Homo sapiens: one gene and its partners. The protein of the gene in region 3 interacts with the protein of the main gene of each other region in a pairwise test. Each region holds a gene or a part of one and is shown on either strand. Other genes may lie near its edges.

Region 1 (8,005 bases), on a different chromosome or scaffold from region 3:
TAGAGCTGGGACTTTAACTCAGGTCTGAATCACTGTGCACAATGACAATGAGAGTGTCAGATCTCTGAAGTCCCAGCTCCAAAATGGTATGAATTCCATGTTAAGTGTTGAGTCCTTTGAAGTCAAAGAAATTTTCATTAAAAGAACATTCTTATGTTTGATCTAAGATATTCCTGTTCTGGAAACAAATATCTTTTTCTCACTTAGCACCAGGTGTACCAATCATTGTGCCTGTTAGTCTACTGTGTTACATAGGCCATAGTTACATTAGTAGGTCTGGGTTGCAAAGGATTATTATGTGTCTACATTTAGGAAAGAGGAGTAAGGAGGAGAAGATGAGATATTTCCCTAAGAAGTAGTCAGTAGCAATAGTTACAGAATCAATTCATAATTATGGAAGCTACCAATTAGCATTGTTCAGTGTCAATAATAAGTAAGTGGGCCAGAGGCAGTGGCTTACATCTGTACTCTCAGCACTTTGTGGGGACAAGGCAGGAGGATCCCTTGAGCCCAGGTATTCCAGACAGCCTGGGCAACATAGTGAAACCTCATCTCTACAGAAAAAAATATTTTAATTAGCTGGGCATGATTGTGCATGCCTGTAGTCCCAGCTATTCAGGAAGCTGAGGTGGGAGGATCACCTAAGCCTGGGAGGTAGAGTCTGCAGTGAGCTATGATTGTGCCACTTCACTCCAGCCTTAATGGGTGGATGATGCTTGAACTCTGTAGAACAAAGCCTTTCACCTTACAATTAGAAATATGGTGGCCGGGCGCGATGGCTCACGCCTGTAATCCCAACACTTTGGGAGGCCGAGGTTGGCAGATCACCTGAGGTCGGGAGTTTGAGACCAGCCTGACCCACATGGAGAAACCCCATCTCTACTAAAAATACAAAATTAGCCGGGCTTGGTGGCACATGCCTGTAATCCCAGCTACTTGGGAAGGCTGAGGCAGGAGAATCGCTTGAACCTGGGAGGTGGAGGTTGCGGTGAGCCGAGATCATGCCATTGCACTCCAGCCTGGGCAATGAGAGCAAAACTCCGTCTCAAAAAAAAAAAAAAAAAAAAAAAGAAAGAAAAAAAAAGAAATATGGCTCAAATATCAATTAAAAAAGAAAAAAATATGCTTCAAGATACCCATACCTGGGAAAGAAATGCAATCACTTAAACTTACAGTAAGGTGTAAATTATATCAAATTCTATTCATGGAAGCAGATTTTTCACTGGGAAAGGATACAAGGAAGTTAATGTGTGGTTGTGGGCACTGTAGGGAGGGGACCTGATGGGAAGATTTAGCATTGAGAGTTCATTTTGTCTGTGTCCCAATTGTGGCCAAGTTTAGCTCAGGTAAGATCTGTGAGGAGCAGGGTGGAAGGTATGATGGAAAGGGCAGTCCTCCATGTGGGTCTCATCATTGTGTCACCATCTTTGTATTCTCATTGGAATCACCTGAGGAGCTTTATCAAACTAATGCCTGGATCCTATCCTCAGGGATTATGAATTAATTAGCCTGGGATGTGGCCTGGACACAGGGATTTTTTTTAAGTTTGGTTGGTTGGTTGCTTTTGCAGAGATGGGGGTCTCACTATGTTATGCAGGCTGGTCTCAAATTCCTGGCCTCAAGCAATCCTCCTGCCTTGGCCTCCAAAAGTGCTAGGATTATAGGCATGAGGTACCCACTGTGCTTAAACTTTCTTTTCTTTTTTTTTTCTTCTTTTTTTTGAGATTTTGAGATGGAGTCTCAAACCCTTGAGCTCAAGTGATCCTCCCGCCTCAGCCTCCAGAGTAGCTGGGACTACAAGGAACAGACCACTGCACCTAAACATAAAAATTTTAAAACTCTCTTCTGGTAATCCTAATGGGCAGCAAAATTTGAAAACCGCTGTTCAAATGTATCACCCTGCTACATACAACTCACCTATTTTTCTCTTTGTTCTCCCGAACAGTTCTCTCTGAAGCCTAAAGAAGCAATCTGATGGGACACTAGATTTAGAAGGGAAGCCACCTGGTTTCCCTTTTCTTTGTCATTTCAGCTCTCTATAAGTTTAAACAAGCTTGTCCAGGTCTTAGTCCCACCCCGGACTTTGCATTTGACCGGAGATAGCTTACCTCACCTTATCTGCTATCTAGGGACACCATTACCAGTTTAGTTTATTCCTGCATTTGTGACTTCATTCATGTTTGTGTAAGAATCCTGCCCCCCTTTTCAGGATGTGCAGTGAGTGCAAAGTACTGAGAAATGGAGGGTTCCTCTTACAGGTGGCTGTTGATCCAGTCACCTTTCACCAGGGACTAAATTTACCTTAAAGAAGAGCTTAGATCAAATTACGCATCAGAAAGCACATTTCATTAAAGAGCAAGAAAGGGGACAGTGTTTCCCAGGAGAAGATGAAAAGAAAAGGATTTCTTTTCTTGTCAGAAGACTTGACAAAACAGCAACTGGATATCAAATGTTCAATGCTAATTAACAAATGCTCAGTAGAAAGCCTCCATCTGATTCCCTCTCCCTGACTAAGGCCAGGGAGCAAATGGCAGGTAGAAGCCACACAGGGCCCTTTCTCTAGCATTAGGGAAGCCATACAAAGTTGATGTGCTTGAGAAAGCATTGGACAGGAGTCAAAATTCTGAATGCTTGCTTCACTGAATTACTGTGTGAACTTGGAAAAGTCACTTAACCTCTCCAAGCTTCAGTTTCCTTATCTGTAAAAATAAACCACATTGCACAAAACTGTGACTTGCCATAAACTGAAATAGAACCCCCCTCCCTCATTTGTAAGTCCAGGCCTGGAAGCACAGAACCCGTCCATTTCAGAATTATGACTCACAATGCTAAGAGCCTTATTATCTGAAGTTTCAAAACATAATTCAGTAAACTGTTTTAAGTTTAAAAACACAGGCAAAATTTATGTTGAGAAGTAAAGTGGATGTTACTAATATTTTAAATAGGTTGTTTCAGCTCCCCCACCCACTGCAATAAAAGACTTCCTACCTTTGAAATATGCTGCTGATATTAGCCAATATCTTACCTCAGAAATTAATAAGATTAACAAACAACATGGAAAACAGATCTAATTTTAGTATATGTGTATTTAAGGTTACTTCGATTATTTTGCTACTGACAATGTAAATTATCTCATTGATTAAATTCAGGACTCCCCAAACTTTAAAAATCTCACATGTACATATTAATTTTTTTAGACTTTTTTTTTTTTTTGAGACGCAGTTTCACTCTTGTTGCCCAGGCTGGAGTGCAATGCCACGATCTCAGCCCCCTGCAACCTCCACCTCCTGGGTTCAAGCCATTCTCCTGGCTCAGCTGCCCCAGTAGCTGGGATTAAAGGTGTACCATCATGCCCAGCTAATTTTTGTATTTTTAGTAGAGACGGGGTTTCAACATGTTGGCCATGCTGGTCTGGAACTTCTGACCTCGTGATCTGCCCACCTCCCAAAGTGCTGGGATTACAGTGAGCCACCGCGCCCGGCTTTTTTTTTTTTTTAAAGTAATGGGGCCTCACTATGTTGCCGAAGCTGGAGGGCAGTGGTTATTCACAGGTGTGATCACAGCTCACTGCAGCCTCAAACTCCTGGACTAAAGCAATTCTCCTGCCTCAGCCTCCCAAGTAGCTGGGGCTACAAGTGTGCACCACCATACCTGGTTTACACATTAATATTGTCCAATTTTTCAATTTTTTGTCCCCACAATATTTTTCTGAGTAAAATACTGCAGCTACAATATTACCACTTTATGAAGAGGGAAACGGTGGTATAACATGGTGTGACTGACCACCATGTCTCAGTTTTATCAGTGAGGCAAGAATAGAACTGGGATTAAAACAATTTAGGTTTACTGATGCCCAGGGAAACCACAAAACCAAGGACTTGTGGTCACTTCCTGCATGTAAGAGAAAGTATTTTAGGAAGTGGGAAGCACTTTAAGACTCATTTCAAGGTAAAAAAGAGAATGCCAGAATACCTGGTCCAGGAGGCATTTTATTCTTACTTATCCTGTCTGAATAGGAGGCTGCCTCTGTGATGGTGAGCAGGTGTTAGCTATTTCTAAGCATTCAAATCAGGCTGGGGCTGAAAGGGCTTTAGACACTGAGGGCTGCCTGGTAGTTCCTACCGCATTGTTTCAAGAGGGCTCCCCTCCCCCCCAGGTTAGAGCTGGGTGGGCCTCCGTAGGCCTCTGCAGGCTAGCGTCTCCCCAAACCCACTGTCTTTAATAGTGACGGTGTGAGGAATGTTGCAAGAGGAGAATAGAGGAGGAAGAGGGTACTAAATAGGAGATGGCTTATTAAATAAGCATGGACTCTATGAATTAGGTGTTGTGTAGGCTGGGCGATCTGCGGAGTAACCTGCATTCAGCTATTATTCAGGGGGAGGAGGGGCGGGGAGTGAAGGGGCTTAGTGTTCCGCAGAGAGTCCTGAAATGACTTCCTGGGAAATTCTACCTTGCAGCCGCCCACCCTGAGAAACTTCTTTTGTGGAGAGGGATGGGGGTAGGGTGGGAATGGAAGTGAGAAAGACGAGACAAAACTTCGAATATTTTGGGGTGTGTGTGCTGGTGAGGAGTGGATGTTCTGATCTCCCCCTCTTCTTCTGGCCCTCAGACCTCTGAGGAGATCAGACGACCCTCTCTGGAATCCACTTTTTCCAAGCTCAGCGGATCCTTTATCCAAAGAAAAATAAGAGAAGCCTATCGCCTTGCTCCACTGAGCAGGGCTACGTTTCCCACTGTGCCCCTAGAGCTTAGGAGGGGAGGGCGGGGGGAGGAGGGTAGGCCTGGGCAAAGGCATCTGCAGATGGGGGGAGCTGGCCAGGGACCGGGAAAGGTGGACCCCCGCAGTGCTTCACAGCACCTGTCACTGCGCCTCCGGAAACTCTCCCGAGCTCTGAGCTCCCGCCCCCACGCCCCCGCTAGCGCTCCCTTCTCCCGCCTCCTCTAGCTCCCGCCTCCCTCCCCAGCAGCTCCTCCCCATAAACTCCCCTCCTCATCAGCTCCTCCCAGATCTCCCCTCTCCCCGCTTTCTCACTCCAGCTTCTCCCCGCCTCCTCGCTCCCCTCCCCCTCCGCCGCTGCTCCCTGCCCCCGCCGCTGCCGATCTCCATCTCCGCAGTCTGGGCCGCTGGGTGCAGAGGCTGCCGCAGACCCAGCGGCCATCGCCTCCCTCAATCCCAATATCCATTGTCTCCCACCCCACCTGGCCCTCCACTTCCCCCACAACCATGGCGCACGAATCCGAGAGGAGCTCTCGTCTCGGGGTGCCCTGCGGGGAGCCGGCAGAGCTCGGAGGTGCGGTAGGGTCGGTCGGGCTGGGCAGGGGTGGGGGCGGAGGGGGATGCGCAGGGGCGGCGAAGACTTTCGGTGGGTGGGAGAAAATGCATGATTCTCTGCGTAGGCCCCTGTCCCCACACCTATTCCGTGAACTCGCTTGTGGCCTGGGGAAGGGAGGGTGGCTGAGGAGGGGAGTAGCATGCTCTTGCCCCCCTCCCCTCCTCCCTCCCCACCCCCCTGCCCCATGCCGGGTTGTCTCCTGTCCACACGGATCAGGCCTGAGCTCTAGACTTCTGCATGGCCCTGATGGTGAGCTCATCTCCCCACCCCCAACTAGCGGTTACTGGCCTCCTTGTTAATTAGAGCCTCGGTATACCCAACCCAACTGCGCCACCCACGCTCTCTCTCCTTGTCTTCTCCCCAGGTGATGCTAGCGAGGAGGATCACCCCCAAGTCTGTGCCAAGTGCTGCGCACAATTCACTGACCCAACTGAATTCCTCGCCCACCAGAACGCATGTTCTACTGACCCTCCTGTAATGGTGATAATTGGGGGCCAGGAGAACCCCAACAACTCTTCGGCCTCCTCTGAACCCCGGCCTGAGGGTCACAATAATCCTCAGGTCATGGACACAGAGCATAGCAACCCCCCAGATTCTGGGTCCTCCGTGCCCACGGATCCCACCTGGGGCCCAGAGAGGAGAGGAGAGGAGTCTTCAGGGCATTTCCTGGTCGCTGCCACAGGTACAGCGGCTGGGGGAGGCGGGGGCCTGATCTTGGCCAGTCCCAAGCTGGGAGCAACCCCATTACCTCCAGAATCGACCCCTGCACCCCCTCCTCCTCCACCACCCCCTCCGCCCCCAGGGGTAGGCAGTGGCCACTTGAATATCCCCCTGATCTTGGAAGAGCTACGGGTGCTGCAGCAGCGGCAGATCCATCAGATGCAGATGACTGAGCAAATCTGCAGGCAGGTGCTGTTGCTTGGCTCCTTAGGCCAGACGGTGGGTGCCCCTGCCAGTCCCTCAGAGCTACCTGGGACAGGGACTGCCTCTTCCACCAAGCCCCTACTACCCCTCTTCAGCCCCATCAAGCCTGTCCAAACCAGCAAGACACTGGCATCTTCCTCCTCCTCCTCCTCTTCCTCTTCAGGGGCAGAAACGCCCAAGCAGGCCTTCTTCCACCTTTACCACCCACTGGGGTCACAGCATCCTTTCTCTGCTGGAGGGGTTGGGCGAAGCCACAAACCCACCCCTGCCCCTTCCCCAGCCTTGCCAGGCAGCACAGATCAGCTGATTGCCTCGCCTCATCTGGCATTCCCAAGCACCACGGGACTACTGGCAGCACAGTGTCTTGGGGCAGCCCGAGGCCTTGAGGCCACTGCCTCCCCAGGGCTCCTGAAGCCAAAGAATGGAAGTGGTGAGCTGAGCTACGGAGAAGTGATGGGTCCCTTGGAGAAGCCTGGTGGAAGGCACAAATGCCGCTTCTGTGCCAAAGTATTTGGCAGTGACAGTGCCCTGCAGATCCACCTTCGTTCCCACACGGGTGAGAGGCCCTATAAGTGCAATGTCTGTGGAAACCGTTTTACCACCCGTGGCAACCTCAAAGTGCATTTCCACCGGCATCGTGAGAAGTACCCACATGTGCAGATGAACCCACACCCAGTACCAGAGCACCTAGACTATGTCATTACCAGCAGTGGCTTGCCTTATGGTATGTCCGTGCCACCAGAGAAGGCCGAGGAGGAGGCAGCCACTCCAGGTGGAGGGGTTGAGCGCAAGCCTCTGGTGGCCTCCACAACAGCACTCAGTGCCACAGAGAGCCTGACTCTGCTCTCCACCAGTGCAGGCACAGCCACGGCTCCAGGACTCCCTGCTTTCAATAAGTTTGTGCTCATGAAAGCAGTGGAACCCAAGAATAAAGCTGATGAAAACACCCCCCCAGGGAGTGAGGGCTCAGCCATCAGTGGAGTGGCAGAAAGTAGCACGGCAACTCGCATGCAACTAAGTAAGTTGGTGACTTCACTACCAAGCTGGGCACTGCTTACCAACCACTTCAAGTCCACTGGCAGCTTCCCCTTCCCCTATGTGCTAGAGCCCTTGGGGGCCTCACCCTCTGAGACATCAAAGCTGCAGCAACTGGTAGAAAAGATTGACCGGCAAGGAGCTGTGGCGGTGACCTCAGCTGCCTCAGGAGCCCCCACCACCTCTGCCCCTGCACCTTCATCCTCAGCCTCTTCTGGACCTAACCAGTGTGTCATCTGTCTCCGAGTGCTTAGCTGTCCTCGGGCCCTACGCCTTCATTATGGCCAACATGGAGGTGAGAGGCCCTTCAAATGCAAAGTGTGTGGCAGAGCCTTCTCCACCAGGGGTAATCTGCGTGCACATTTCGTGGGCCACAAGGCCAGTCCAGCTGCCCGGGCACAGAATTCCTGCCCCATCTGCCAGAAGAAGTTCACCAATGCTGTCACTCTGCAGCAGCATGTCCGGATGCACCTGGGGGGCCAGATCCCCAACGGTGGTACTGCACTCCCTGAAGGTGGAGGAGCTGCTCAGGAGAATGGCTCCGAGCAATCTACAGTCTCCGGGGCACGGAGTTTCCCCCAGCAGCAGTCCCAGCAGCCATCACCGGAAGAGGAGTTGTCTGAGGAGGAGGAAGAGGAGGATGAGGAAGAAGAGGAAGATGTGACTGATGAAGATTCCCTGGCAGGGAGAGGCTCAGAGAGTGGAGGTGAGAA
Region 2 (5,014 bases), on a different chromosome or scaffold from region 3:
CGCCCAGCCCAAATTTTTTTTATTGTGATAAAATATGCACAGTTTAAAATTTACCATTGTAACCATTTTTTTCTTTTCTTTTTTTTTTTTTTTTTTTGAGATGGAGTTTTACTCTTGTCACCCAGGCTGGAGTGCAGTGACGTGATCTCGGCTCACTGCAAGCTCCGCCTCCCGGGTTCACGCCATTCTCCTGACTCAGCCTCCTGAGTAGCTGGGAGTACAGGCGCCCGCCACCATACCCGGCTAATTTTTATATTTTTGTAGAGATGGGGTTTCACTGTCTTGGCCAGGCTGGTCTCAAACTCCTGACCTCAAGTGATCTGCCTGCCTCAGCCTCCCAAAGTGCTGGGATGGGATTACAGGTGTGAGCCGCCGCACCTGGCCTGTAACCATTTTATTGTATCCAGTTCAGAGGCACGAGGTACATTCATGATGATCAAACATCACCCGTCTACTTACATCTTCAAGCCAAATGGGAACCCTATATCTGTTTGCATCTATTTTTAATTTATACAGATAGTATCGTGATAAAGACTTTGATGCTTTTTAAAAAACTTGGCACTGCACACACACATTTGTGAACCGTCCGAGAGCACGTTGCAACATCACGGTTTTACCTCTTAATATTTTTTTTTTTTTGAGATGGAGTCTCGCTCTTCACCCAGGCTGGAGTGCAGTGGCGCGATCTTGGTTCACTGCAAGCTCCGCCTCCCGGGTTCACGCCATTCTCCTGCCTCAGCCTCCCAAATAGCTGGGACTACAGGCGCCCGCCACCACGCCCGGCTAATTTTTTGTATTTTTAGTAGAGACGGGGTTTCACTGTGTTAGCCAGGATGGTCTCGATCTCCTGACCTCGTGATCCGCCCACCTCGGCCTCCCAAAGTGCTGGGATTACAGGCGTGAGCCACCGCGCCCGGCCTACCTCTTACTATTTCAGTGTATATTTCCTAAGATCAAAGATATTCTCTTGTATAACCATAGCACAAATACAGATTTCAGGAAATTGAATTTAGATACAATCCTTTTATCTAATACATAGACTATATTCCAATTTCATTCATTGGCACAATCATAACTTTCAAAGCAGTATTGTTCCTGGCCCAGGAGCCAGTCCGGAGTCGAGGATTGCGTTCAGCTGTTATGTTCCTGTGTGGCTGGGAAGCGGGTCTCAGACGGTTTCATCTGTAAATGTCAGTATCAGCGTCTAATAAAGATAAGCCTCTTTTTAAGCAGCCACGACACCTGATCACACCTAACCACCACTCCTGGCATTGCACATCCGTCTGGTGTTTGTGTTTCCTGTTGTCTTACCCGTGACATGGTTTTCTGTGGTTAGAATTGGGTTGAAACGAGGACTCAGACATGATCAGCTGAGCCCTCGGTCCCTCTCCTGGACACGAAGCTCCCGCCCTAGTGGGGCCCCACGGTGGGTTTTGGTGCCTGGTGCTCGCACAGTTGGCAGAGGGGGGTGGGGGCCTCATCTGGGGTTGGGAGGGGGTGGGGGGCTTTCTGAGGCTGGGCTGTTTATCTGGAGGCCGAGAGCCAGGCTGGGCACAGCCGTGGGTGCTTGTAGGCCTGGACCAGAGACTGCCTTGCAAACAGGTAATTCTTCCCACAGGTGTGGGGCTCAGAGAGGGGGAGATGGGGAGGGCACAAAAAGAGAGCCTCTTGGAGAAGGCGACTCTGAGTGGGGTCCTGGGGCCCCTGTTCGTTTCCAGGACACATCTGCCCTCAGTGGGACGGGCTCAGTCAAGGCCAGCCCAGGGGAGGCTGCTGTGGGCTCCCGCTCTGCTGCTCAGGCGAGCCCTGCTTCTCTTTATGTTTCCCGTTGTCCACAGTTTGGGCAAGATTATTGAGTGGGGTTTTTTTTAAACAATGGAAGTTGATTTTATTTGAAGTTCCATTCTGCCTTTTTTTTTTTTTTTTTTTTTTTTTTTTTGGAGACAGTCTCACTCTATCGCCAGGCTGAAGTGCAATGGCGCGATCTCAGCTCACTGCACCCTCTGCCTCCCAAGTTCAAGCGATTCTCATGCCTCAGCCTCCCGAATAGCTGGGATTACAGGCGCCCACCACCACGCCCAGCTAGTTTTTGTATTTTTAGTAGAGATGGGGTTTCACCATTTTGGCCAGGCTGGTCTCGAACTCCTGACCTCAGGTGATCCGCCCGCCTCGGCCTCCCAAAGTGCTGAGATTACAGGCGTGAACCACCGCGTCCGGCCAACACTCAGTCTTGTGGCAGCACAGCGGGCACCCTGGAGAGACTGGAGCAGGGTGTGTGGGCTGCAGGTCTGGCTCCTGGGATCGCAGATTTCTCCTCTGGCCTCAGACCTCCCATCCAGGCACTGTGAGCTCATCAGTAAAATGTAGACTTCGTAGCACCCCCTCCACAGCCCTCCGTGAGACTCGTGGAGATTTCCTGAGCTGGGCACAGGAGGCCCAGAGTGCCCGCCACGGAGGGGGCTCCTGACCCACTGTTGTTCGTGATGTTTGTGATGTAGGCATCACACTCTGAAGGCGGTTCTAGGAAGCTCTGACGCACGGAGGCACTCTGGGCTGTCTGGGGGCCCGTGGGTTGCAGGGCGCATGTGGGCCATGGCAGGTGTGGTGTTGCTGATGCCTTTCCTGTGCCCCCAGCAATACTACATCCTGCTGATCCTGACGGACGGCGTGGTGACCGACATGGCCGACACACGGGAGGCCATTGTGCGTGCCTCACGCCTGCCCATGTCCATCATCATCGTGGGCGTGGGCAACGCCGACTTCACCGACATGCAGGTCCTGGACGGCGACGACGGCGTCCTGCGCTCCCCACGGGGTGAGCCCGCGCTCCGGGACATCGTACAGTTCGTGCCCTTCCGGGAGCTCAAGAACGTGAGTGTCCTGGAGGGGCTCCGTCAAGGCCGGCTTGGGGGTCCCTGTTCATGTCACTGCCCAAGACCTTCCCAGGCCAGGCTCACGCCAGTGGATGTGGCAGGTCCCTTCTTGTGTCTGGGGGATCCTGGGCTGTTCCCCCCAGTCAAGAGCAGTATCTGAAGCCAGGACTTTGAGCACCTGAAACACCCTCCACCGTTTTGAAACTTGTCGAATCTACACAAAAGCAGAGAACAGCACAAGGGGCTCCTGGGATCCACCACGCGGCTTCCCCCGTTGCTGCCAACCTCTGCGACCCGGCGAGACACGCACAGCACACACGTGAGGTTCTACCCGCCGAGACACACACAGCACACACGTGAGGTTCTACCCGGTGAGACGCACAGCACACACGTGAGGTTCTACCAGGCAAGACACACATGTCACACATGAGGCCCTACAGCAAGACGTGCATGCCACATAGATGTGAAGTTCTACACAGCAAGACACCACAGACATGCATGAAGACACGGACACGTGACATTCTACGCAGTGAAACATGCATATTACAGACACATGAAGCTCTGCAGTGAGTCACATCACACAGACACGCTCAGGCTTTGCCGGGGAAGTGTGGGTGGGGCCTGGACCATGGAGGTGGCCTCGCCTCCCGTGTCAGCACTTTTCATCTCCGTGCTTGGGGGGCTGGAAAGACCCACGTGCAGCCTCATGTGGCCGACATCCTCAGCAAGTCTTGCCCGGCACCCAGGTGAGCCTCTGGTGGGGGTGGGTAGTCACCACTCGGCTCTGGAGGATGAGGCCTGGGCCATAATCCAGTTGCAGGGACGGATGATCTCCATCTCGAAGGTCCCAGAGGTAACTGCGTTGTCCCATCCTCCAGGCATCCCCTGCGGCGCTGGCCAAGTGCGTGCTGGCCGAGGTCCCGAAGCAGGTGGTGGAGTACTACAGCCACAGAGGCCTGCCCCCGAGAAGCCTGGGTGTCCCTGCCGGAGAGGCCAGCCCAGGCTGCACACCGTGAAGATGTGGAGGGCGTAGGGTGGGGGCAGTGAGGAATGGGTCCGTACAGCCTCTGTCTGCAACATGCTTGGGGTCCCTTAAGCTCCCTCCGACCTCCCAGAAGCCTCCAGTCCCCACCAGGCCCCACTCCCAGTCCTCCTGGGATCCTGCTGGCTTGGGCCCGGCTCTGGGGCCCCCAAGGCCGAAGGGTGACAAAATACAGGCCCCCATGCCTGGCCCTGCCTGAGCCAGGTGGGTGGAGGGAGGGAGATCATGAGGGACTTGGAGGGAGCTGGGAGTTCATCCACGGGAGACCCTGCCCCGATGAGAAGGGGCAGGGACTGGGGGCTCTGCTTTGCGTCTAACCTTTGTGGGGGAGGGCCAGCAAGGCAGTCCCCCCACGCCCGAGAAAGCCTGGGGGACCCAGACACCTGTCCCCACAGTCAAAGCCTGGGGACCCAGACATCCTGTCCCCACAGTCAGCCTCCTGTCCCTGCTGGTGCCCCCACACCCACCTACCCTGTGCTTTTTGCCGTCGGGCCTCTGCACCTGGGTCCATGGGGTCTGCGGGGTCTGCGGGGTCTGCCTGGCCTGTGGGTTCTGCCGGTGGGGCTTCAGGAGTAATAAAGTGTCACCCTATCCTTGTAGTTCTCTTGTGCCTTCAGTCCCTTCCCCAACCCCCCAGAGGGCTGGGCCTGGCTTCCAAAGTGCCCACATCTGAGGCAGGGGCTCTCCCAGGCCCAGCACACCAGGATCCTCCCTGGACTGAATGGGATGCGGGATGCACAGGCTGCCAGGGGCAGAGAGCGGGGATCCGCACCATGGCTGCCTCCACCCGCGAAGGAGCTCCACTCGGCTTCCTGGGACTCCCAGGCCTGAAACCCAGTGAGTGAGGACTGTGGACGTGATGCAGGGGTGCCAGGAGCCTCCCACATGGCCTGCACCGCAGGGAGCTGGGCTGGAGGGTGAAGCCTCCATGTGATGTTCGTGGAGCCGGGGCATCTCCCACCTGCTGGGACCTCCTCGCCCTGAGTTTGAGATTTCCCCTGAATGATCTTGCCTGAGAAAAACAAATTGTCCTAACCCTGAATCCAGGCCCACCCATCCCCACATCGGTCCATCCACCCACCCATCCGTCCACCCATCG
Region 3 (7,832 bases):
TTCAGGGTCACCCTTTCCCTATCCCATGTAAGCCCCTGATACACAGACAGGGCTTCAGCTCATGAGTTCCTATTAAATGTTTCTTTTGGAGAAACTGAATTTGTCAGCCTCTTTCTTTAACCTCTTAGCTTCCTCCGACTTTAGGGGCAGGCTTGCACAGACCTGCTTACCGAGAAATGAGACCATTTCCCCAGGCCTGACGTTCTCTGAGAGTCACAGACAGTGCTGGAGACTGAGCCTTTGTGTAGATCTGTCTTATTTTTTCATGATCAGATTCAGGTTGAACATTTCTGGCTGGAAATTCTACTTGAAGGAGTCTGTATCTTTTCTCTGAGTATCACATCAGGTACCCAGGATGTCAAATGGTCCCACTGTTGGTGTTGTTGACCTTGGTCATTTTGCTAAGGTAGTGTCTGACCAATGTTATTATAAAGGTTCCTTTCTCCCCGTATAATGAATTAGAGGCCTGTGGGAAGACTGTGTGCTCCGTAAAGGCTTTTCAGGAAACAAAGATGTTGGCATTGTGCAACTTTGTATGATGTTTTCAGTTAGCAAATTGTGACTGTCTGCTCATACCATTAAATATTCTTCAAAAACATGATTTCCAACCTGTGGGTGCGTTCTACTTAACTATTACCTACTAGGATGTAACTATTAGCTTGCTAACACAAGCTCCACGACAATGCAGATTTTCATCAGTTTTACTTACTGCCATGTTTCCAGCACTGAGAGTGGTATCTGGCACACAGTAGAAGCTCAACAGAAAATTGTTGAATGAATGAATACAGCTTGTGTGTAATTTTTCAATATCCTAATGTCACAGCAAACATCCTTGTAAATAAATCTTTGAAGTATTTATTTTGTGAGAAACACAGATAATGCTTGTAAGGGAAATGTTTATGTTGATAATGTGAAAAAATAAGAATGCAAAATCATACATATGCCATATTCTCCACAACATCAAGATATGCAAAGAGAACCATCTGGGAAAAAAACAGAGCAAACAATTGACTGGAATTATCTCTGAACAGTTTTAAGGTATTTTGAACATTTCTCTGTATTTTCCACAATGAGAATATACCGCTTGTATGCAAAGGAGCAGCAGCACCTTTCTCTTTTTTTTTTTTTTTTGAGATGGAGTCTCGCTCTGTCGCCCAGGCTGGAGTGCAGTGGCGTGATCTTCGCTGACTGCAAGCTCCACCTCCTGGGTTCACGCCATTCTCCTGCCTCAGCCTCCCAGGTAGCTGTGGCTACAGGGCCCGCCACCATGCCTGGCTAATGTTTTGTATTTTTAGTAGAGACAGGGTTTCACCATGTTAGCCAGGATGGTCTCGATCTCCTGACCTCGTGATCCGCCCACCTCGGCCTCCCAAAGTGCTGGGATTACAGGCGTGAGCCACTGCGCCCGGCCTACCTTTTTCTTTTTAAAGTTAGTTTTGCAAGTCAAGAGTCATAGTAACTGGGGGTACCCAAACTGGTTAAAAACCAAATTCAGGTTAAGGCCACACCAACTGTAGGAGACTGTGGACTCGCAGGAGCCCCTGGACGCTGGGCTAGGCTGATTACATTTAGGATATCAGGTTCCCTTTCTGGTGTCACATTTTAAAAGCGATATTGTCTAACTGGTGCCTGTCTAAAGGAGAGTGGCCAGTTGGTACAGGATCTGAAAATTGTGTTACTGTTAACACTTAAGGAACTGGGAGCATTATTCCTCCAACAGAAGACTGGGGGATTGAGAAGTTGCTTTTAATATTTGAAGAGCTGTCAAATAACAAAGTGATGATTCTTATTTTATGCACTTGTAGAGGAAAAGCTTCAATAAGGCAGTTTTTTTATTCTAGTAAATGAGGAAGACTTTTTTTTTTTTTTTTGAGACAGAATCTCACTCTGTCGTCCAGGCTGGAGTGCAGTGGTGTGATCTCGGCTCACTGCAACCTCCACCTCCCGGGTTCAGCAATTCTCCTGCCTCAGCCTCCCGAGTAGCTGGGACTACAGGTACACACCACCATGCCCGGCTAATTTTTGTACTTTTAGTAGAGACAGGGTTTCACCATGTTGGCCAGGCTGGTCTCGAACTCCTGACCTCACGTGATCTGCCTGCCTCGGCCTCCCAAAGTGCTGGGATTACAGGCGTGAGCCACCGCGCCAGGCAACTTTTTTTTTTGGGGGGGTGATGGTGGGGGGATAGAGTCTCGCTCTGTCACCCACGGTGGAGTGCAGTGGTGCGATCTCAGCTCACTGCAACCTCTGCCTCTCGGGTTCAAGCGATTCTCCTGCCTCCGCCTCCCGAATAGCTGGGAATACAGGTGCATGCCACCACACCTGGCTAATTTTTGTATTTTTAGTAGAGTAGGGTTTCACGCCACCATGCCTGGCTAATTTTTGTATTTTTTAGTAGAGACAGGGTTTCACCATGTTGGCCAGGCTGGTCTCGAACTCCTGATCTCAGGTGATCCACCCATCTTGGCCTCCAAAAGTGCTAGGATTACAGGCGTGAGCCACTGTGCCCGGCCTCAAGGAAGACTTTCTTAACAATTCATCATATAGTAGAAAATGAAAACATTCCCTAGAAAGGAGTGGACACCAGGTGGCCTTTCCCAGGGGAGCAGGGCAGGAATTATTGAAGCAGTTAGGAGGTGAGAGAGATGCCTGCCCTGGGGGCACCTGGGATGCTTGGCGTGGCCACTTCCAGCATCCTCCACAAACCTGCCTGCAACTCCCCCATACATGCAGCCTCTTCCGAGACAGAGGAATGGTCAGGGTCCCCTGGTGCCTGCCTCCCCCTTCATTTGGGTCTCTTCTTCAGGGCCAGCTCCACAGAGAATCCGTCCCTCATACCTCATCACTCCCTCCCCATTCTCTGGCCCTGATTTAGTTTTCTTCCTAACACTCTTTCTGACAGACACACTGTTACCTGTTAACTCATTTCCTTCTGTTTGTCCCCTCTAACATGCTTGCTGTATGGATGGAGGGGCCTTATTCTCCTGGTTCCTGGGGACAGACCAGTGTTCACAGACCCCAGACCAGGGACTGTTGTACAGCAGGCCTGCCATATTTGTTCAATGAACGAATGATTCCCAAAAGAAATAGAGCACAGAGTTCAGAGGCGGCCTTCAGGGAAGAAATTTCAACAATGTCAAAAATTAATTGTGGAGTATCCATTGATAGATGAATGGATAACTTAAATGTGGAATATGCATACAATGGAATATTATTCAGCCATAAGAAAGAAGGGGCTGGGCGCCGTGGCTCACGCCTGTAATCCCAACACTTTGGGAGGCCCAGGCAGGCGGATCACGAGGTCAGGAGATCGATTCCATCCTGGCCAACATGATGAACCCCGTCTCTACTAAAACACACACACAAAAAAATTAGCCAGGCGTGGTGGCGTGCCCCTGTAGTCTCAGCTACTCAGGAGGCTGAGGCAGGGGAATCGCTTGAACCTGGGAGGTGGAGGTTGCAGTGAGCCGAGATTGCACCACTGCACTCCAGCCTGGCGACAGAGTGAGACTCCGTCAAAAAAAAGAAGGGAAGGGAAGGGGAGGGAAGAAGGAAGGAAAGAAGGAAGGAAAGAAAGAAAGAAAGAAAGAGAGAGAGAAAGGAAAGAAAGAAAGAAAGAAAGAAAGAAAGAAAGAAAGAAAGAAAGAAAGAAATTCTGACACATGCCACAACATGGATGGAAGTGAGGACACTGTGCTAACTAAAGTAAGACTGTCACAAAAAGACATATAATGTATGATTCCACTTATACGATGTCCTTAGAGTAGTCTAATTTAGAGACGAATAGTGAATGCCAAAGGCTAGGAGGAGGAAAGAATGGGGAGCTAGTGTTTACTGGGTATGGAGTTTCCATTTGAGAAGATGAAAAAGTCCTGGAGACGGTTGGTGGTTGCACAAGAATGTGAATGTACTTGGTGCCACAGAACTACACTTGGAAACAGTTAAGATGGTAAGTTTTACGTTATGTGTATTTTACCACAATTAAGAAAAATTAATTATGGGTAGTTGAGAGAATGTGGTCTTCCTCAACTTACGGTAGGAAAAGTCAAGAATAACTTAAAGGCTGATAATAGCATTTCAAAGATCGAAACTGATCAGAGAGGCTATTCCATCAGGCTAGACTAGCTCAATAGTGACTTTTTCCAGAAGGAGAACCACTGGGAAGAGAGAACTGAGCAGTGAGGACAGCGAACTTGTTAAGTTTAGTTTTCTGCTTTAACGAGGGGCTTCCGGAGTCCTTTAATAAGATCCCCTCCCAAAAGTGGCACCCTGGGTCTCTCTGTCTCCCAGTCGTGTCCCCGCCCGCCGGGCCAGAGCAATGGACTCCCAGGAAGCAGGGGGGGCGCGGGCGGGGCGCGGGCGGGGCGGGTGGGGGAAGGGCAAGGACTCACTCTTCCTTTCCTCCTCCGCCGGGGCCCGCCCCGAGCCCTGGCCCCACCCCGGCTCTCTGGATCCGCCTCCTCCTCCCGACCCCGCCCCGGCACCTTGGCCCCGCCTTCCACTCGGCCCCGCCCCGGCGTCCTGGCCCCGCCTCCGCCGCCCGGCCCCGCCCCGCTCCCGGCGGACTGCGAGCAGGAAGAGCGCAGTGGCTCTGCCGACGCCGCGTTCAGAAAGGTGTGGAGGGGGCTGGGGGCGCAGGTCGCGATCAGGCTGCGTCTCCTGCCCGCCCAGCCACCTGCGGCCCTGGCCCCACCCTGCCGCTTTGGGCCGCTCGGGCTCGCGGCCGCCCCCGCCCCGAGCGCCGGCTCGGGGCTCTGCTGCTCTGGCCTGGGAGGCGGGGCCGGCTGCGCGGCGTCATGCATATGCATGAGCGGCGCGGCGGCGGCTCCATTGTGCCCTCGGAGCGGGCGGCGGCGCGATGGCGCGGGTGGCGGCGGCCCCGGGGCGGCGGGCGGCGCGGAGGGCGGGCTGAGCGCATGGAGCGGCGCGGGCCGGGGGCCGCCACGGCGAGGGGCCGGGCCAGGCCGGGCGGAGGTGAGCGGGGTCCTGGGGGTGGCCCCTGGCAACGCCGCCAGCAGGCAGGTGTGGGCCGGCGGGGGCAGGCAGGTGCGGCAGGTGCGGGCCGGCAGGTGCGGGCGGGCAGGCAGGTGTAGCTGGTCGCCCGGGGCGCCCCGGTTCCGCTGCGGCGCCACGGTAGGGTTCACAGCTGGGCTGGGGCTAGAGGCTCTGCCGCCCACCTGCCGGCACCTGCCACGCGTGCGTCGTGGTCTTGGGCAGGCTCGGCCCCGTGGGCGTCAGGGTCATCCAGCCCTCCCCTGAGTCTTTGTTGGAGGCTGGCCGAGGGGTGTAAGCGGCGCTCGGGGTTCTCCTGAGCGATGAAGGCTGGCCGGGCCTTCGCTCCAACCTGATCGTTCCTAGCTTTGGGGCCAGGCAGTCTCACCTACATGGTACGCCCCTCCGCTCCTACTTACGTGCCCACCAGCACGGCGATGTGGGGGCCGTCTGAGGCCGTCACCTGCTCGCGGAGGAGCTGTTCCGCTCCTGGGCTGAACGACGCTGAGCGGCCAGCCCCCAGCTGCCAGTTTTGATGGGGACACCCCTTTCCAAACTGGACATACTGAAGCTCAGGCGTGAGGATGCCCTGCTCCCCTGAGGTGCCTTGTCTTCCCTAGTGCCAGGTGTCCTTCACCGCGGCACCCCCACCCGGTGCCTTGTTTACCCCTCCACCTACCGTGTCTCTCCTCCCATTCCCTGGACCCTCTGCCCTGCAGTGTTCTGCCTCTCCTTCTCCCTAGGGTACCCTCTTTCCAGTATTACAGAACATCCATGGTGGTGTCTTTAATTTGTGTCATCGCAGATTTCACAGGGACACACACGGAACATGTGACTTGGTCTGAGACCGTGGTGATTACGGATAGGATGGACACAGACTCACCACCAAGTTCTGGCAAGCTAGAACCAGAGGGCATCCCTTGATGCTTAGTGTGGAAACAGGAGAAGTGAAGGAATCTTAACTTCCAGAGGTACTGACCTCTAGCCCTTGTCATGCCCAGGGGATAGTTACAAGCTGGAAGTGTAAATGAAGAGAACAAGCAGGTGACAGTTGCCGGTTGTAGATTTCTGAAGGACAGGCCTAAGATGTTTGGGGAGCATCCTGATTATTGGGATTGAGCTCCCAAGGGCTGATGACATGAAGGTGGTCATGTGTCCTCAGTCCTAGGATGCTACCAGATATCCATCTTACACATTGTAAACTGATGCCAGGTTAAGGTTGTCCCTTCAGCTGTTCACTGAAATGTCTCATGCCTGGGCCATTGCTTATTCCTGGACTTTTTGATGAACTCTGCATCCTGACTTAGCCCCACGCTTAGACATTTTAGTACTGTGGCCTTACAGGTAGAGGGGGCAGGACTTTCAGCTACCTGTATATGTGAGTACCCCACTTTTTGCTACCAAGGACCCCGCTCCTGCAACATTCCACAGCCATCATTTCTTCAATACCCTTTGACTCCATTGTCACCTGGGTTGGATCCTGACCCTGCAATCTTGGAGACAGTGAGTCCTGATGTGTGACCTATTGAGAAGCGTTGCCTGCCACAGGGCCCACTTGCTGGTCCTGCTCCTAGCTGACTAGGCAGGCAGAGAGGTGGCATGGAACAAGGCTCAGGAGGTCAACCAGGAGACTTGGGGGTGCAGCTACTCTGGGACATTTGGGGAAGAGAGGTCTGGGGTAGTGAGTTCTGTAACTCTGTCTAGAGGAAGATGTGATCTGACCCCCGAGAAAGCCTTGTGGCCCTCTAGACTGACCTTGTCCATCTCTCAAGGGGTCCTAGCTTCCAGCTGGAGTTAGTTTACAAGGAAAGCGCCAGGCACTAAGACCCTTGGTGGGCATGGGCCTTGCATGATCTGGGATCCAGATTCCAGGCTCCAGGCTTGTTCCCAACCCAGACTCAAAGCCAGGAGATGAGAAGAGGATCTGCACACACACAACGCAGAACACTATCCTATCATCAGGGGCACAGGGTCAAGGATACCAGACCTGGAGACTGGAAGTCTTTTCAGAGAGACTGTCCTCAGAGAGGAGACCAGAGGCATGAGTTCGGGTCGGCAGGAAATCCCCCTGTGCAGTGAAGAGTAAGCTCAGAGGGAACTGGAAATCTTTGTGGTCTCTGTCCACAGCAGAGAACCATCAGGGGTGGAATTCCCCAGGCTCATGTGACATAGGAGCCTGCTGTGGGCTCCTCCCCTCCTTGTACCTGCCCTGTGCTCCTTCTCCCCAGCTCACTGCATTTCCTAGATCTGAGGTTCTCAAACTACAGTTCCTGGACCAGCAGCAGCAGTAGCTGCAAACTTGTTAGAAATTCTGGGCTTAGGCCCCAGCCCATCCTACTGACTTCAGGTGGGGCTGGGCAGCCTGTCATCACCAGCTGCGAGCTGGTTTTGATGTGCTGCAGTTGGGGAGCTGCTGCCCTAGGTGACCTAAAATGAGGCAGTGCTGCACAGAGTGCTGCCTGCACTTTGAGGCCTTTGACCACGGGCGGGGGAGGGGGCACATCTGCTTGCCTGCCAGATTCCCTCTCTGTTCTTGGGACAGCAAAGTGGCCAGCCAACCCAACCAGCTTTCTAGTGGGGAAAGATTGTCACAGCAGTTCTGCGGAGACAGAAGGCTGGTGGTAGCAGTTGTATTGTAATTAAACTTTTTATTTTGAAATTATTGGCTGGACACAGTGGTGCTCACCTCTAATCCCAGCACTTTGGGAGGCCGAGGTGGGTGGATCACTTGAGGTCAAGAGTTCAAGACCAGCCTGGCCAACATGGCGAAACTTCATCTCCACTAAAAATACAAAAATTAGCCAGGCATGGACTATGGTGGTGTACACCTGTAGTCCAGT

Evidence for each region. Proteins that work in one complex are often made in the same cells at the same time.
Region 1: the proteins of ZMIZ2 (region 3) and SALL2 interact in binary tests that used the Homo sapiens proteins (3 or more experiments, as listed by UniProt).
Region 2: the proteins of ZMIZ2 (region 3) and CPNE7 interact in binary tests that used the Homo sapiens proteins (3 or more experiments, as listed by UniProt).

What each region holds. Positions count from the first base shown.
Region 1 is NC_000014.9:21,523,347-21,531,351, reverse strand, and holds the start of SALL2 (sal-like protein 2), read left to right. Parts: upstream 1-5,005; 5' UTR 5,006-5,224; coding exon 5,225-5,291; intron 5,292-5,697; coding exon 5,698-8,005. UniProt on the Homo sapiens protein: Probable transcription factor that plays a role in eye development before, during, and after optic fissure closure.
Region 2 is NC_000016.10:89,592,733-89,597,746, forward strand, and holds the end of CPNE7 (copine-7), read left to right. Parts: exon of another isoform or gene 1-1,232; intron 1,233-2,634; coding exon 2,635-2,871; intron 2,872-3,098; coding exon of another isoform or gene 3,099-3,192; intron 3,193-3,751; coding exon 3,752-3,889; coding exon of another isoform or gene 3,890-3,906; 3' UTR 3,907-4,514; downstream 4,515-5,014. UniProt on the Homo sapiens protein: Calcium-dependent phospholipid-binding protein that may play a role in calcium-mediated intracellular processes.
Region 3 is NC_000007.14:44,744,018-44,751,849, forward strand, and holds the start of ZMIZ2 (zinc finger MIZ domain-containing protein 2), read left to right. Parts: upstream 1-4,829; 5' UTR 4,830-4,974; intron 4,975-5,797; exon of another isoform or gene 5,798-5,963; intron 5,964-6,888; exon of another isoform or gene 6,889-7,074; intron 7,075-7,832. UniProt on the Homo sapiens protein: Increases ligand-dependent transcriptional activity of AR and other nuclear hormone receptors.